2 linked regions of the Homo sapiens genome follow. The protein of the gene in region 1 purifies or fractionates together with the protein of each later gene. This does not show direct contact. Each region holds a gene or a part of one and is shown in the gene's direction. Other genes may lie near its edges. The genes, in order: ALDH4A1 and LYPLAL1.

The links.
Region 2: the proteins of ALDH4A1 (region 1) and LYPLAL1 fractionate together in Homo sapiens (co-fractionation; 2 studies listed by BioGRID). This does not show direct contact.

The regions. Positions count from the first base shown.
Region 1 is NC_000001.11:18,871,287-18,879,262, reverse strand, and holds the end of ALDH4A1 (delta-1-pyrroline-5-carboxylate dehydrogenase, mitochondrial isoform a precursor), read left to right. Parts: intron 1-1,650; coding exon 1,651-1,847; intron 1,848-2,007; coding exon 2,008-2,055; intron 2,056-2,795; coding exon 2,796-2,948; intron 2,949-3,759; coding exon 3,760-3,881; intron 3,882-4,681; coding exon 4,682-4,800; intron 4,801-6,305; coding exon 6,306-6,418; 3' UTR 6,419-7,833; downstream 7,834-7,976. UniProt on the Homo sapiens protein: Irreversible conversion of delta-1-pyrroline-5-carboxylate (P5C), derived either from proline or ornithine, to glutamate. This is a necessary step in the pathway interconnecting the urea and tricarboxylic acid cycles.
Region 2 is NC_000001.11:219,204,136-219,212,111, forward strand, and holds part of LYPLAL1 (lysophospholipase-like protein 1), read left to right. Parts: intron 1-6,379; coding exon of another isoform or gene 6,380-6,396; coding exon 6,397-6,512; intron 6,513-7,356; coding exon 7,357-7,593; 3' UTR 7,594-7,976.

The DNA.
Region 1 (7,976 bases):
AGGGACCCCTCCCCTGGCCATTATGAAAGAGGAGGGAGGTAGAGGGGATCCAGCCACAAGTCAGGTGGATGAACCATTTCAGGCACCAGCACTGCCCAGTAGAACTTTTTGTGATGAGGGATGCGTCCAGTACCTTCACTCTCCAATATGCAGCCACCAGCCACACATGGCCATGGAGCCCTTGAAGGGTGGCCTGTGCGACTGAGGAACTGCATTATCTAGTTTTCTTTCATTTTAATTAAGTTAAATCTTAGTAGCCAGTCGTGGCTGGTGGCTGCCGTGTCGGGCATTGCAGCTGTAAGCGGAGGCAAGTGCAAATGCAGAGACCAGAAGTGGGAATGAACTTGTATTTGAAGAAACAAAGCAAGGCCCATGAGTAGGGAGGGAGGAGGGCTGGTAGGAGAAGACGGGCTGAGACGTAGGCAGGGCTGGACCTTGTTGGCATATTAAAGTTTTCCCACAAAGAAACAGTTTCATGGTCAAGGAAATTTGGCATGTGTGGTGTTAAAGCAAAATGGACTCCTCCCGTGCAGAACTTCTCAGAGCCTTGAATGCTCTAATACGCATGGCACATCTTCAAGGACAAGGTCTGCCATGTAGTGTTTCCCACACGCATTGGGCCATGGAACCCCGTTTCTGCAAAGACCCCCATGGACCAAGTGTTTTGTGGAGCACATTTTGGGAATGTGCTGAGGCCTAGAGGGAGGGAGAGTTGCAGCCAGCACGTGACCAGCAGAGCTGGGACCGGTGGTCCAGCATGTTTCTCTGTGGCGTGAATTGGGGCCCACTGGGGAGTCTGGACCCTGTTCCTGGACTGGTGGGAGTTCGGATGGGGGTGTCAGGGAAGGTGAGCGCTCCTCAGGGTCAGCTGTGTGGCTTTCTGCTCTCAGAGCCTCCTTCCCTGCCTCCCTGAGGGAGAGAGGCCGCTGGTTACCACTTTCCAACCTGGAGCAGGTGACTTCATCTCTCTGTGCCTCAGTTTTCTTGGCTTGAAATTGGGGATAGTAATGGGAGGTTGTTGTGAGGCTTTGGTCAGACAAAGCACAGCGTACTTCGTCCAGAGTTGGGCAGCTGTTAAGTGCTTTCAGCTGCTGTTAGCTGCTGCTTCCCACGGAGGGAGGAAACTGAGGCCGGGAGAGTGAAGTGACCTGTCTGAAGCTCCCTCCCACTGGGGAAATGGGGGAGCGGTTTCCAGCACGCGTGGGGAGGAGGGGCCCAACCCTGGCAGCCGACATAGGGTAGGCTCCAATGTCCCTCGTGGACGAGGGCTCAGGAGAACCTCACAAAAAGCTGTGCCCACTTCTGGGAATGGCTGGCTCTCGGGGGCCTTGGGTTCTCATCTGTCCTCTGCTGTTGTGTTGGGTAGTTTCAGTTTTCCCATCAGTGTAATGGGGCTGTTGGACCTGATCACCTCTGATGCCCTTCACCCCTCCCTGGGCCTCAGTTTCCTCATCTGTGGAGTGGGAGAATGGGCCTGGCCCGTGGGTCTCTGGGATGTTGGCCAGCGCTCACTCTGAGCCTCCGCCCGCTCTGGGCTGCTCCGTGCTCGTGTTGGTCCCGGGCCATGGATGGCGTAGGTGGTGTTTTGGGCCCCTGGGCAACCGGGGGAGCCAGCTCCTCTGGTCATTTCCCCACCCCCGACCCCTGTAGAGTGCGGCGGAAAGAACTTCCACTTCGTGCACCGCTCGGCCGACGTGGAGAGCGTGGTGAGCGGGACCCTCCGCTCAGCCTTCGAGTACGGTGGCCAGAAGTGTTCCGCGTGCTCGCGTCTCTACGTGCCGCACTCGCTGTGGCCGCAGATCAAAGGGCGGCTGCTGGAGGAGCACAGTCGGATCAAAGTGGGCGACGTGAGTGGCACCGTCACCCCCGCCGCGGCCCAGCGGGGGGCTGATGGGATTGGGTCCCTGGGAGGCTCCTCTGCAGCCGGGGCTGGGGTGTGCGGGGAGGGGTCTCCCTTGGTCTCGGCCTGCAGTGACTCGTCTCTTCTGGCGCCTCCCTTGCCTCCAGCCTGCAGAGGATTTTGGGACCTTCTTCTCTGCAGTGATTGATGCCAAGGTACGGGGTGGGAAGTGGGCGTTCCTGGGTGGGGGCAAGCCCTGGAGTGGGTGGAAGAGGGAGGAAGAGATACAGGGTACCCTGACCCAGGGCATGACCCAGCCCCACTGCTTTGATCAAGGCAGCTCAGCAGCCACACACGCACCTCCAGCTTCAGAAAGGGCAGAATCAGCCGTAGCCAGACAAGAGCTCATCTTGCGGCCACCCTGGAACCAGGCTCAGCGAGCTCCTAATAGCATTTGCATGAGTGCATGTACACGTGTGTTTGTGAATGTGTTCATATAGGGCTCCGTGTGGCTCCACATGTAGGTCTTTCCATATAAACACGTACATATCCATTTGCACATAAGCACACACACGCATATGTCGATAAGTCCACCCACACGCATGTACATGGAGAAGGCATGCAGATCCCTACATGCTTAGACATGTGACCATGCATATGCCTATATATGCATTGATTGATGTGTGTCTGTGTTTATATGCGAGTGCACCTGTAGTACTAACACACGTACACTTGTGTGTGTACACACACACACACACACAGTGTTCATGTCTGTCCTTGTCTCTGCTGTGGCTCAGCCAGACCCTGGCTTTTGCCCTTGGCGTCCCCTACCCCTGCCCCTGTTTCAGGAGTTGGGCCCTTCAGGTGCAGGTGTTTCGGGGTGAGTGTGTTGTGGGGGCTGCCGCAGGGATGCCTTCCCAGCCTCTTAGACCTCCCTCCTCCCTGCCCACCCCAGTCCTTTGCCCGTATCAAGAAGTGGCTGGAGCACGCACGCTCCTCACCCAGCCTCACCATCCTGGCCGGGGGCAAGTGTGATGACTCCGTGGGCTACTTTGTGGAGCCCTGCATCGTGGAGAGCAAGGACCCTCAGGAGCCCATCATGAAGGAGGTGACTGGGGTGGGCAGCCTGGGGTCCAGAGGAGGACAATCCCACCGGAGCACAGCACACACACAGTTCTCCTGGAGACATTCTCCCATTTCACAGATGAGGCCCTAAAGGGAGACCCTAAAAGGGAATGCCTCCGACCGGGAGAGAGTAGAGCCAGGTTTTGAGCTCAGGCTGCCTAACTCCAAATCCGGGGCTGTGTCCTTGACCCTGGCTGGGGTCTGAGCATTTCCAGTGCCCTCAGCAACCACGTCCACTGCAGCCATCATAATGGCTGACACTGATAGACTTTTACTGTGGGGCCAGCTGTGGCTGAGCACTTGGCTGAGATGACGTGGGTGTTACTGTTCCCATTTTACAGATGAGAAACTGAGGTCAAGGCACTTGCCCAAGTTGGTAGTGCAGGGCTGGAGTGTGCCTGAGAAGATCTTCCCCCCAGCCCCTTGGTGGCAGAGGGAACCATGAACCCTTCTGGAGGGAATGGTATCTCTGGGCAACTCTCATGCCAGCTGCTGCTGGAAGCCTCTGGGACCTGGACCCTTAGTTCTCCGGGTGTGGGTTTGGCAGGGAGAGCCAGAAAATGTTTGCATCTTTTGCCGGCTTGTGGTGGGATGGACAGGACAGGGAGCTGGGCACGTTGCTGTCCTGGAGGGAACCCAGGAGGAGGCGACACCTGACCCTTCTTGCAGACACTGAAGTGTAAACTGAGGCCCAGGGACTGGGGAGAGGGTGAGCCAGAGCAGGGGCACTGGGAGGGCTCAGGGCCCTGGTCCCTGGTCCCGTGGAGGGTCTGACGCCGGGGCCTCTCTCCTAGGAGATCTTCGGGCCTGTACTGTCTGTGTACGTCTACCCGGATGACAAGTACAAGGAGACGCTGCAGCTGGTTGACAGCACCACCAGCTATGGCCTCACGGGGGCAGTGTTCTCCCAGGATAAGTGAGTGGCCAGGCCGCAGCCCTGGTGCTGTGCTCCGGGTGTCCTGTCCGTGTCCCCATCCCCACCTCCTGGACGTGGTTCCCAGTAATAATGCTGCCCCTACCTTCTCTCTGTCCCCTCCCCTCAGCCCAGACAGGCAGCCAGGGCTCGCCACATGGGCCCACAGCAGCAGGCTCTTTGTTGCCGGTACTGGTGGTGCCGGTGCCAGGGTGCCACTGGGGACCAGTGGATCTGAACCTCTAGGGGCAGGGCTAGGAATTGGTGTCTTCGACTGGCTCTGCGGGATCTGGTGTTGCCCCACTGAGTGAGGTGATTGTCCCATGCTACAAAGCAGGGCAGGCCAGGGGCTGCAGAGGCAGGATTCGAACCTGGGTCACATGAGGCTAAACTTGAGGCTTCGCCTCTTCTTTCCTCCGTGGCACTGGTTGCCCCCATGTCTGCCTCTATGAGAAAGTGGAGGTGAGCTTGGAGAGGGAGGAAGGGTGTGGGCCTGGGAGCTGGAGTTTCCGCTGCTCCTGAGGGACAGGAACATTGGACCAGGACAGGCCACTCCCTTCAACTTCGCAGTAGCCCTGTAACGAGGCGTGCCAAGCCCCTCCCCAGAGGAGGAAGCTGGGCTCAGAGACTGGGTAACCTGACCGAAGGCCCACAGCCAACAGCTGGCAGCATCCCTCATCCCTGACTCGGCCTCCTGTTGAACCTGGAAAGCCAGTGTGGGCTGGAGCAGGGGTGTTGAGGCTGGAGCTGGGGCTGGAGGGGAGATGAGCTGGTTGCTCTGTCACCACTGCTCTGCTTTGTAGGGACGTCGTGCAGGAGGCCACAAAGGTGCTGAGGAATGCTGCCGGCAACTTCTACATCAACGACAAGTCCACTGGCTCGATAGTGGGCCAGCAGCCCTTTGGGGGGGCCCGAGCCTCTGGTGAGTGGGTCCCCCTTCCCACAGGGGAGCTGAGTTCCTGGTGGGAGACCCTAGATGTTACGTCTCGAGGGGCTTCAGAGTAATAGGAAGGATACCATTTACTGAGCACTTATTGTGGGCCAAGCAAGTGCACTAGCTCAGGGTCCTTTCAGCAAACTCGTGAGCAAAGGGACTATTCTTCCCATTTTACAGAGGAGGAAACTGAGGCTCAAGGCCACATGACCCTGGTGGGATTGTAATTTTGGCTCCAGCAGCCGCACTTTCTGCACCATAGCCAGTGTCCCTTAAGTCCAACAACCTCTACTTCACAATGGGGAACTGAGGCTCAGGAGGAGCAATGGCTTGCCAAAGGTGACTGCTCCTGAGTGGCAGAGCCAGGGCTGAACCCAGGCGTGCTGGGGTTTCCCACACCGACCAGTTCTCCAGCTCTTGATGGATGCTGGCTGGGTGTCCTACAGTTTAACTTGATGCTCACTGCCTGGGGTTAGTGCAGACCCCACAGGTTAAGAACTCAGTCCCGTAAGACTGACCCCCCAACTTCAGATGCCAATCACAAGTACTGGGACCCCAGGTTACCCACACCTTGTCTGACTTTGCGACGCATTAGAAGCTCCCATGATGCCCTCTTGAGTTTTGATACGTTGTTAGAACAGCTCACGGAACCGAGGGGAAGCGTGCTTACTATTACCCATGTATTGCAGAGGGTATTTTAAAGGATACAGATGAACAGCCAGATGCGCAGACACATAGGGCAAAGACTGGAAGGGTCCCCGGCAGGGGCACCGCCGTCCCCCTGGAGTTCGGGCTGTGCCACCCCCTTGGCATGTGGACGTGTTCACCAATCTGGAAGCTCTCCCGACCCTGTCCTTTTAGGTTTTTATGGAGGCTGCATTACACAGGCACGATTGATTCAATCATTGGCCATTGGGGTCGACTCAACCTCCAGCCCCTCTGCCCTCCCTGGGGCTGAAGGTTCCAAGCCTCTAATCACAGGGTTGGTTCCTTTGCCAATCAGTGCCATCCTGCAAGAGCCCTCATTAGCATAAACTCATGTGTGATTAGAAGGGGCTTGTTATGAATAACGGAAGACACTCCTTTCACCCCCATCACTCTGGAAATTCCAAGAGCTTTAGGAATTCTGGCTAGGAACCAGGGGTGAAGGCTAGATATGTACCTCTTATGGCACCCCAGGACCATGCCAAGTCCCTGCCTCTCAGTCTAGTGTTCTCTCCACGCCACACCCTGCCTCTTAGACATCCTCGCATCCCAGCAAGGATGCAAGGCTGGGTGCGACTGGAGAGAACAATGGAGGCTCCCCACAGACTGGAGACTGGAGGCAGGGTCTCCTGTCCATCCCTCTGGCTCTTCTGCATGCCCCAAGCTTGGCAGCAGGCTCGCTGCTGGCCGCTACACTGCTGGTCCGTTGATTCCATCATCTCCTCCCTTCCCCTTCTGCCCAGGCTGTTGCATCTTTTCAGAGAAAAACAGAAGTGTCTTTTCCGCAGGAACCAATGACAAGCCAGGGGGCCCACACTACATCCTGCGCTGGACGTCGCCGCAGGTCATCAAGGAGACACATAAGCCCCTGGGGGACTGGAGCTACGCGTACATGCAGTGAGCCCCTCTCGGGCTCCACCGTCCAGCTGTCTGTCCGTCCAGGTGGCCGACCTCACTGCACAGACCCCACTCCAGCCCCTCCACCCCTTCTTCATGCACAGCTGCCTTTCTATAATCCGGGCTTGACTCCCTTCTTACCACTGTATTCTGGCCTCTCCCATGCCTCAGGCTCTGGTTTGAGATCGTGCTGGGGAGGAACATGGCCACTACCCCTTATCCCATCGGCCATGTGGGAGGTATGACCCTGGTGCCTGGCAGGTTCTCCCTCTGCCCTCCACTGGGCCCAGTGGCTCAGGGACCTGGGGAAAGGAGATGGAGCAGCTCTTGGGATCCTTTGGGGAAAAGGAGGCCATTCTGGGCCCCTTGGCAAACCTCACCACTCACAGAGGCTCCTGGCCTTGATCCCTGCCCCTCCAGGTGTCCAGGGTAAAGTGTAACTCAGACTGACCTGTGGGGCACAGGGGGCACCAGCTGGCCTTGCCCTCTCTGGTCTGGGCTGTCTACCTTCCTCACTGTATCTTTGCCCAGACCCACCTGGGCCAGTAGGCCCCTGTCCCCAGCCACACACCTTAGATGCTGGCATGCCTTACTCCAGGTGCCTGTGTTTGGCCGAGGCCTGTGTGATTCCCGGTCTGCACCACATGGCGGGGTTGGGGGGCCGCTGGAGGCCACCTGCCAAGGCGTGGGATGGGATGGTCCTGCCGGTTTAGGCCGTGATTCTGGAAAACCTTGGATGGGCCTTCGTCCTATGTCAGCCTTCCCTTTGATCCTCAGGCCCTACCTGTAGAGACCTCCACTCCTAGAGCCAGTCTCAGGGTCTGGGATTTCCCTGCAGGAGCTCAGCCACCACTGTGCCATGGTGACACAGGCCAAGGCAGACATTGGCCCTCCCTTCTCCCAGCCCCCAGAGGCCTGGCCTTGGGTTCGTCAGCATGGGCCGAGGACGTTGCCTGTAGAATCCTCCTCTGCCTGGGAGTGGCTCTGTGTGGACCAGTCCCTCACTGGCCCATTCTTTTTTTGACGCAGCCAATCTGTGACCACGATTCCTCCCACAGATGCCTCCTGCTTGGATTCTGAGTGGTCAGAGATCTGTAAAGCATGACTTTCAAGGATGGTTCTTAGGGGACTGTGAAAGTGTTGGGTCTTCCTCCAGGATGCCTGCATGGGACCCCACCCGGAGCTGGTGTGGCCATTCCCCAAGTGCCACTGGCCCATGGATGGGGGTGGGTGCTGGTGCCAGCTGGGCTGGGTGTGGGTTCTGTGTCCTTCCAGGATATGTGTCATTTCCCATGAGGGGCCGGGGCAGGTGGCTGGGTGGGGGCACAGGCTGGAGTATTCTTAGTTCTACTGGTTCTACACTGTGAGGTGGCAATGGGATTTGCTCAGATGCCACCCAATAAAATGCCTGTTACTTAATCACAGTGGTGGATGGTCTTTCTGGAGGGGATGGTGGGGGCAGCCAACATCTTTTAAGTCTGGTGTCATTGCCAATGTGTCACCTGGTCATGGGCACAGTGCTCTCAGTGTGACAGAAGGAACAGTAGGTGCTGATGTTTGAA
Region 2 (7,976 bases), about 200 Mb from region 1:
AAAAATGTTGATTTTTTAAAATTTATTTTTGTATATTTATGTTTCATATGATTCTACCAGACATTAAGATAAAACTTAGGGAAAACAGGCAATAGAATAGTGACTTTTAAATTACTTTTCGAAAGTTGGCAGTATAGTCATTGACAGAACCAGGATTCAAATTCTGTATTCTGAGAAAATTATTAATAATAGATTGTCCTGCCTTCTTCTGGCTTTATTAACATATTAACAGTGTCCAGTGTGCAGAATATAAGCATTTTATTGTCAGTACATTCTCCATCATTATTAAAGCCTGTCTTGAACTCTTCATTTCCTTCTAGTTTGTTTCTGTCTAAGACAGGAAACTGGAGAAAGGTATATCATTTTTCCCTTGTGTATTGTTGTGCTTAGAAAGTACATATGGTAGAGATAGCTTTAAATTAATTGGCATCTATATTGCACTGGATAGTTTTAAAATTGCCATTACATGTCAGTGTTTTCTATTTAGGTAATGTTTTAAGTTCTGAAGTTGTTTTTATATACATTAGATCTCCTGGGTCTTGCAGTAGGTAAAAGTAAAGTAGGATATAATTATTTTCATTTCAGAGGTGAAGAAACTAAAATTCAAAGTGTTCCTGGCTAATACAGAGTTGGGACTAGAACCCGGGTCCCCATAATACCTTCCTTTATTGGCCACTAGGTGGTGATAATTCGTTGTTAAGAGAGAATACTGTTATAATTTAGGCTTAACTTAGATCTAGGATGTATAGAACCTGACAAATGATATGAATAGATTTATCAGAATTTTGATAATATAAGCATATTATCAGAATTTTGAAGCAGAGAGAATCAAGTCTTTCTGGAACTACACTGGAGTAATTTACGTGGATGATCTAAATATCCATCATGACAGGAATGGTTGAGGGAATGATGGCCTATTAATAGAATTGAGTATTATGTAACCATTAAGTACTACATGCACACACACATAAAAAGCACTCAGTAGGCCGAGGCGGGTGGATCATGAGGTCAGGAGATCGAGACCATCCTGGCTAACAAGGTGAAACCCCGTCTCTACTACAAATACAAAAAATTAGCCGGGCGCGGTGGCGGGCGCCTGTAGTCCCAGCTACTCGGGAGGCTGAGGCAGGAGAATGGCGTGAACCCGGGAAGCGGAGCTTGCAGTGAGCCGAGATTGCGCCACTGCAGTCCGCAGTCCGGCCTGGGCGACAGAGCGAGACTCCGTCTCAAAAAAAAAAAAAAACAAAAAAAACAAAAGCACTCAGTAAGTATGTGTTCAATTAAAAATAATTATAAAATTTTGTAATTCTGTAGAAAGACTTTCAAATTAGTATTACATGAAAAAAATAAGATACATTGAACATGTAGAGTTAGTTTAACTGTAAAAATGAAATTTAAGAGAACATGTCAAAATTCTGTACAGTACAAAATATTGTAAAATTTTGTACAAGAAACTTTTGTACAAGAAACATTTTGTACAATGGGTGTATATTAATTTTGCAATAAGATTAAAAATAAAAATAAATGAAGGGATAGTTAGAATTCCCAAGATGAAGTCTAGCATCAAAATTTCCAGCCTGCCTTTTTCTGAACTTGTACACGTTTTCTCTATAGCCCAGCTGGGAGCTAAAACTTCAGAATGATAGCATTCTTCTACTTTCTTTGAACATATATGTATTTTAATTAAACATTTTATGTTTCTTCAACAACTAGTAGGACTTTAAAGGCTCTGGACTGTTGTTCTAACAGTTTTCCATAGAGGAAAATAAATATTTTGTTTATCCCACAAGTTTTGTATGAGAGGAGATATCCAAATAAATGTAATAGTCATAATTTCTGTATTCCCAAATCTGAAGAATAATTATAATAGTATACCAGTTAAATGGAAGAGGTGTTGAAATTTAGAATGGTAATGGACTTTATTGCATGTTTAAAGTTCTTTTCAGTTGATAGCACACTTTAAGTGGATTTTTTTAAGGATTTTACTTTCAGATTGATTATCTTAATGTTCCTAATATAGTCTTTTTATAGATTGTTTCTGTTTTATTTTATATAAAGAGTTCATAAAGCCAGGTTTATTATTTTTTAACATGTTTTATTCAGCTTGTTAATCTTAAGTGTATGTTGAAATGTTAACTCTTGACATTTTAAATACTTTGCCAGCAACCGTAAATACCCGTTATAACCATTACCTACAATGGATTTACTATTTTCGTATTTACTTATTGAACAGTAGATTTTATATCATTTTTTAGACTCTTAGGTGGAAAATTGAATTCAAATAACTAGTTCTTTGTGTTAAATTTTCTTCTGTTAGGAAAAAATACACAAAGTCCCTTTTCACAGTAGTGTCCTATGCTAAAGGTCATTGTATTGTCAAAGACGGCTAGTGAGGAGTTGCAGATTACCTCACAAAATCATAAATGGGAAAGGGACTTAGATTAAATCTTAAAATAATAATATTTCAATGAGTATATTTTTCTTCATTGTAACTTAAGAGAATTAAACATGAAGTTAAATGTCTGCAGGATGCATTTATGTGTATTCATAATGACATTTTATGTGCGGGTAAATGTTTTCTTTCTCTCTTTTTTTTTTTTTAAGTTGTTACCATCAAAAGTCTCTGAAACTACATAAAGTGATTACATTCCCTGGTCAACAAAAATGAAGTGTTTGTCACTTCATATGTAAAATTTTCTTGATAGTTATGCTTTTAAAATCTCTTTTTAATGTAAGTTTTTGCCTACTAATCTTTTATTTACATTTTATCTTTTAATGATCTTTATCTTAGCCTCAAAATTATCTATGAAATACTAATTTTATTTTTGCTTCATTTATAAATTTTGAAGCTTTTTTCAATCATTCGTACAGCTTAGATGGTCTAGAACTATGGTAGCCACTAGCTACATGTTGCTCTTTAGTTAAATAAAATATAGAATTGGTTCCTTGGTCACACTAACATATTTCAAATATTAATTAGTTACATTTGGCAGACACATAATTCAGGCTCTTGAATTTCTCAGAAAAAAATAATAAATTTGCTCCTGCAGCCTTGTTATCTATCGCGTGTGGATTTTCTTTAAATGGTGACCATATTTTAACTTTTTGTTTTTACCCATTTTACTTAATTTTGAATTATTTGCCACACAGCTGTGATTCTCAGACATCTGATTTATGGCATAAGAGCTTTTAAAAATTAGACATATGCAGTGAGATTTTGTTAGTGGGTCTGGGATTGGGTCTAAAATCTTTATTTTTAAGAGGTCAGATTAGGAATGATGGGCTTGGAGCACACTAATCATTCATTCCTAGATTTTGTAGGTTTTTTTAAGCTTTACTTTTATATCAAATTAAATCACCAAAAACCTACATTTTCTGATGATAAATTTGTCTCCTTGCAGAGATATTGTTACTGAGTTACAGTTACATTGTTCATTTGTTTAATAAGTATAAGCACTTTCTGTGTGCCAGGCACTGTTGTAAGCATAGAGGGATACATTGATGAATAAAACACAAAAATCCCAGCTCCCATCATTAAATTCTAGTGAAAGTTAAGTCTTTATGTCCCAGAATTTTATGAGAAGAATCAGCAACAGAAGTGGCAGTATGTAGAATGTCTGATTTTGAATTTTATGTTTAATAAAGATCCATTTAATAAATTCTATTAAGGAATTCAATGCTAAGAAAAATTTCTAGTATGACTTGTTATGATTCCTTCTGTTAAAGAATATTGCCTTGCTACAGAGAAACTGTTAAATGCCCAGTTGCACACGTAATTACTGCCCCCACCCTAACATCATGGTCTGTAAGTCTCTTTTTTTATTCTCTGTGTCTCACTCTTTGCTCAAATCCCATCTCTTCCTCTCTCACATTCTCTCCTATTTTAGAGATGTAGTTTTATTATTAACAGTGTGTTTGATTTTAAGCAACCTGAAATTCCTTTGTAAGTAAATGGGCTGTAAAGAACAGAGGGGAAATTGGAAGAGATGAAGGAAGTGAGTGTTTGGTAAGCTCTATTCTGTGAACTTTTAGGAAAGCTAGAATTGTGTTCTGAGAGATAGGGATTCTTAAACTGAAAGTAGATTTCTGTATTTACAGTAACTGTACATTTTAAAAGTTCTCGCAATTTTAGTTTTTATAACTGATTAAGTATTTGTATTTAAAAGGTTGGTGGAAAATCTAGAGATTAGTCCATCTATCTTGTTTTACTATAAATGAAATCCAGCATTTTAAATAATTTACACAAAGACATTCAGCTTGGGAGTATCACAGGCAGGACTAGAACTAGTTTCCTTAATGTTGTCTCTTTGATAAGCTTAAGAGATATTTGTAAATTTTTTACTACTTTCATTAGAAACCCATACGGTTTCTAAAAATTCAGTTAAATTTTTATTGAGTTACTGCTATGTGCAAAGCACTATACTTACCACTGAGCGTGTAAAGTTGAAACTGACTCATTAGTATGCGTGCACCACAGAGACACTTTGTTCAGCTAATCATAAGCACTCAATGAAAATATGATTATTGAAGAAAAACTGTTTCTTACCCTTAAGGGTTTCAAAATCTCAATAATTTATATTCAATAAATTAAATCGATAAGAATTTTATTTCAAAATGTCTTCGCTTTACAACCCTCATGATGTTATTAAAGAGAAAACTTCATAAGCAGAGAGAAATCTGTAACTAGAATTGTGGCAAAAAACAATAAAGTTGAGATTTTTTTCTGTGTACTTACAATAAATGTTTACCAGAAATACTAATTTGTGTATTTACGTAAGCTGTTCATATCTAAATGGGACATGTCAAAGATTTATTAATGCACAAATTCATGGATAATGTAGCCCAGTGGCTTTTAACCTTTTGGAGAATCTAATGTACATTTGCAAATTTTACATACAGTGTTAAGATGCTTATGCTTTTTTCTCCCCCACCAAGCTCATTTATGAACTTCTAATTAGATGTATCTACATCTGGAGTTATTGGGGGTATTTTGAAAGAGCCTTTCAGGTGGCTCTTGTCCATGGTGGGCTACTGCTACGATAAGAACTTATTATTTCTTGCTGGTATGTTGAAAATCACAGATAACTTTTATTCATTATTTACATAGTGTGCCTTTTTTAAAAAATCTAAACTTTGCCAGACTGGTAATCTTCTCTCGGGTATTTGTGTTCTGAGTCCAAAATAATATTACCTGCCTATTCCAGATAAAGTAGTCCTATTTTAATAAATATCAAGGGATAGTAGAAAGTATATTAAACTCTATTGCAAAAGATCCGAATTCCAAAATTACTATTAATAGTTTTATATTTAAAATAATATGTACCTAATCTTGGGCCTCAGTTCCCTCCATGTATAAAAGATTATTGTAGTAAATTCAAATTTATGGTCTCTTAAGAGCTCAGCTTTACACTTTGTTAAGTGAAATAAAGCAGCAGACTTGAAATTAGGAGATTTGAATTCTACTTCAAAGTATATTTTTGTATTTCTATGAGTGTGTGGCTACATGATTTACATTCTGTATTTTCTCATGGAATATAATGAGATGTCATTTAGCTTTCTCTCAAGCTTAGGAATGTCACACTGAGTCACTGACTTGTCGTCAGGCCTGGAATCACCATTCTCTCTGCTGCCGTCACCTCATAACAGCTATCTCCATATTCTGTGTTGGATGTGTTTCCTTCTCAAAGTTCCCCTGAACAGGAGGGTCTGTGTATTTTAATCTGCATATATCCAGTGACTGGCATAGAATTGGTACATTAAAGAGACAATAACAGTTTGACTAATTTTTTTTTCAAACTTTGGTTTTAAAAACTACATATAGGCATACATGTTTCATTTTTATTATATCACCATAAATTAGTTTCCAAAATAATATTGTAATCCAAAAATGTGTTAACTAGCTCCTCAAATTTTTTTTATCATTCTTAATTCAGAATTCACTAAGCATCTATTATATAGCAAACACCAGATACATAACTCCTTATGGAGCTCACAGCTTAGCAAGTAAGACAAAAAGGTGCAAATTATTAATTGCGTTGCAGTGTGAGGGTTTCTGTACGTGTAAACAAAATATAAGTAAATATTGAGAATTTAAGTAATGCTTGTAATATGACTCATTTTGAATTACGATAGATATTTTACTTGGTGAACATGATATATTTGTTTAATCCTGGCTCCTTGTAGAGCACAGCTCTCTTTACCAGTGGTGACATAGAGGGAACAGGGTTATTTATGTTATCGCAGGCCTTTGTCTGTGAAACTTAGAGTAGACGAAATTTCTTTTTAGCATTCTCTTTAAAGGTCTCCAGATATTTTAAAAATATGGAAAATTGTTATATATCATATCCTAAATTATTATTTTATGTATTCTACTTTTAAGTATGTTTTTGTTTTTAGGAGGATTCTCTATGGGAGGATGCATGGCAATACATTTAGCATATAGAAATCATCAAGATGTGGCAGGAGTATTTGCTCTTTCTAGTTTTCTGAATAAAGCATCTGCTGTTTACCAGGTAAGTTCCAGATTTAAAAAAAAATGAAAAAAATATGAAATATATACATGTTAAAACTAAAGCAAAATCGGTAATAAAGCTGTAAAACACACACACAGTTGATGCACAGTTGATATGGATTGACCATTCCTGGAATTCATGGCCAAATGAGTCGTAGTGATTAAATTCCAGCTGATCATTAATGTTTTGGAAATCCCCTGTACAAGAAATATTGTTAAGCAAAATGTCAAGGAGGAAAGGATAATCATGTGTGTGGTTGTGGGGGAGCATATATGTAAATTTTATACATATTAAAACTGCATGATGGTTATAGCTGGGTTTGCTTATTGCATCATGAACATAAAACAAAAATCAATTACATAGCACATACTTATTATGCAGCAATATCCTCATCTATGAATATGATGCAGCTTCAATTATAATGTTACAGCTTCAGTACCAGAAGTGGAAATGTTAAAGCAGATACAGAATAGAGAACTAAAATGTAATTGTCCCCTTGATTGTGCCTTAGCTGTGTACTCCTCCCTCCTTCCACATTGTGTGAAGAGGTCTGTCTTCCCAAGTCACTTAGTTTCTTTAGGAAATGCTTTGGCCATTTTTAAGACGTCCTCTATAGAATAAATGTAAGTGACACACAGTTACAAATTGAGTGATGCCAGGAACCAGCTAAGTCCCCAGGCCTGGCCCACCAATGTATACCTCAGACAGCACTCCCTCTGCCTTTTTTTTCCCATTAGTTATTGAAGCCTTGGTAAAATTGGAATTTTCCTGTTCTCTCTGATTTCTAAGAATGATCTTAAATGGAATTTCTTAAACTTTTCTGTCTTTGTATCTTCTTCTCTAGGCTCTTCAGAAGAGTAATGGTGTACTTCCTGAATTATTTCAGTGTCATGGTACTGCAGATGAGTTAGTTCTTCATTCTTGGGCAGAAGAGACAAACTCAATGTTAAAATCTCTAGGAGTGACCACGAAGTTTCATAGTTTTCCAAATGTTTACCATGAGCTAAGCAAAACTGAGTTAGACATATTGAAGTTATGGATTCTTACAAAGCTGCCAGGAGAAATGGAAAAACAAAAATGAATGAATCAAGAGTGATTTGTTAATGTAAGTGTAATGTCTTTGTGAAAAGTGATTTTTACTGCCAAATTATAATGATAATTAAAATATTAAGAAATAACACTTTCCTGACTTTTTTATTATTAAAATGCTTATCACTGTAGACAGTAGCTAATCTTATTAATGAAAAACAATAGACAAACATCTGTGCATAATTTTTCAGACACAATTCTGTAAATATTTGGAAACCTTTTAAGTATTTAAACTTTTAAATTTTTGAAATAAAGTATTCTAAACTAATATAAATAAGGACAATGAAAAAACATGAAAGGACTTAGCATAATGTTATTTTATCTTTTCTACAACTTTGTTTAAATTACCTTTCCAAAGATATTTGTGTTTATGTA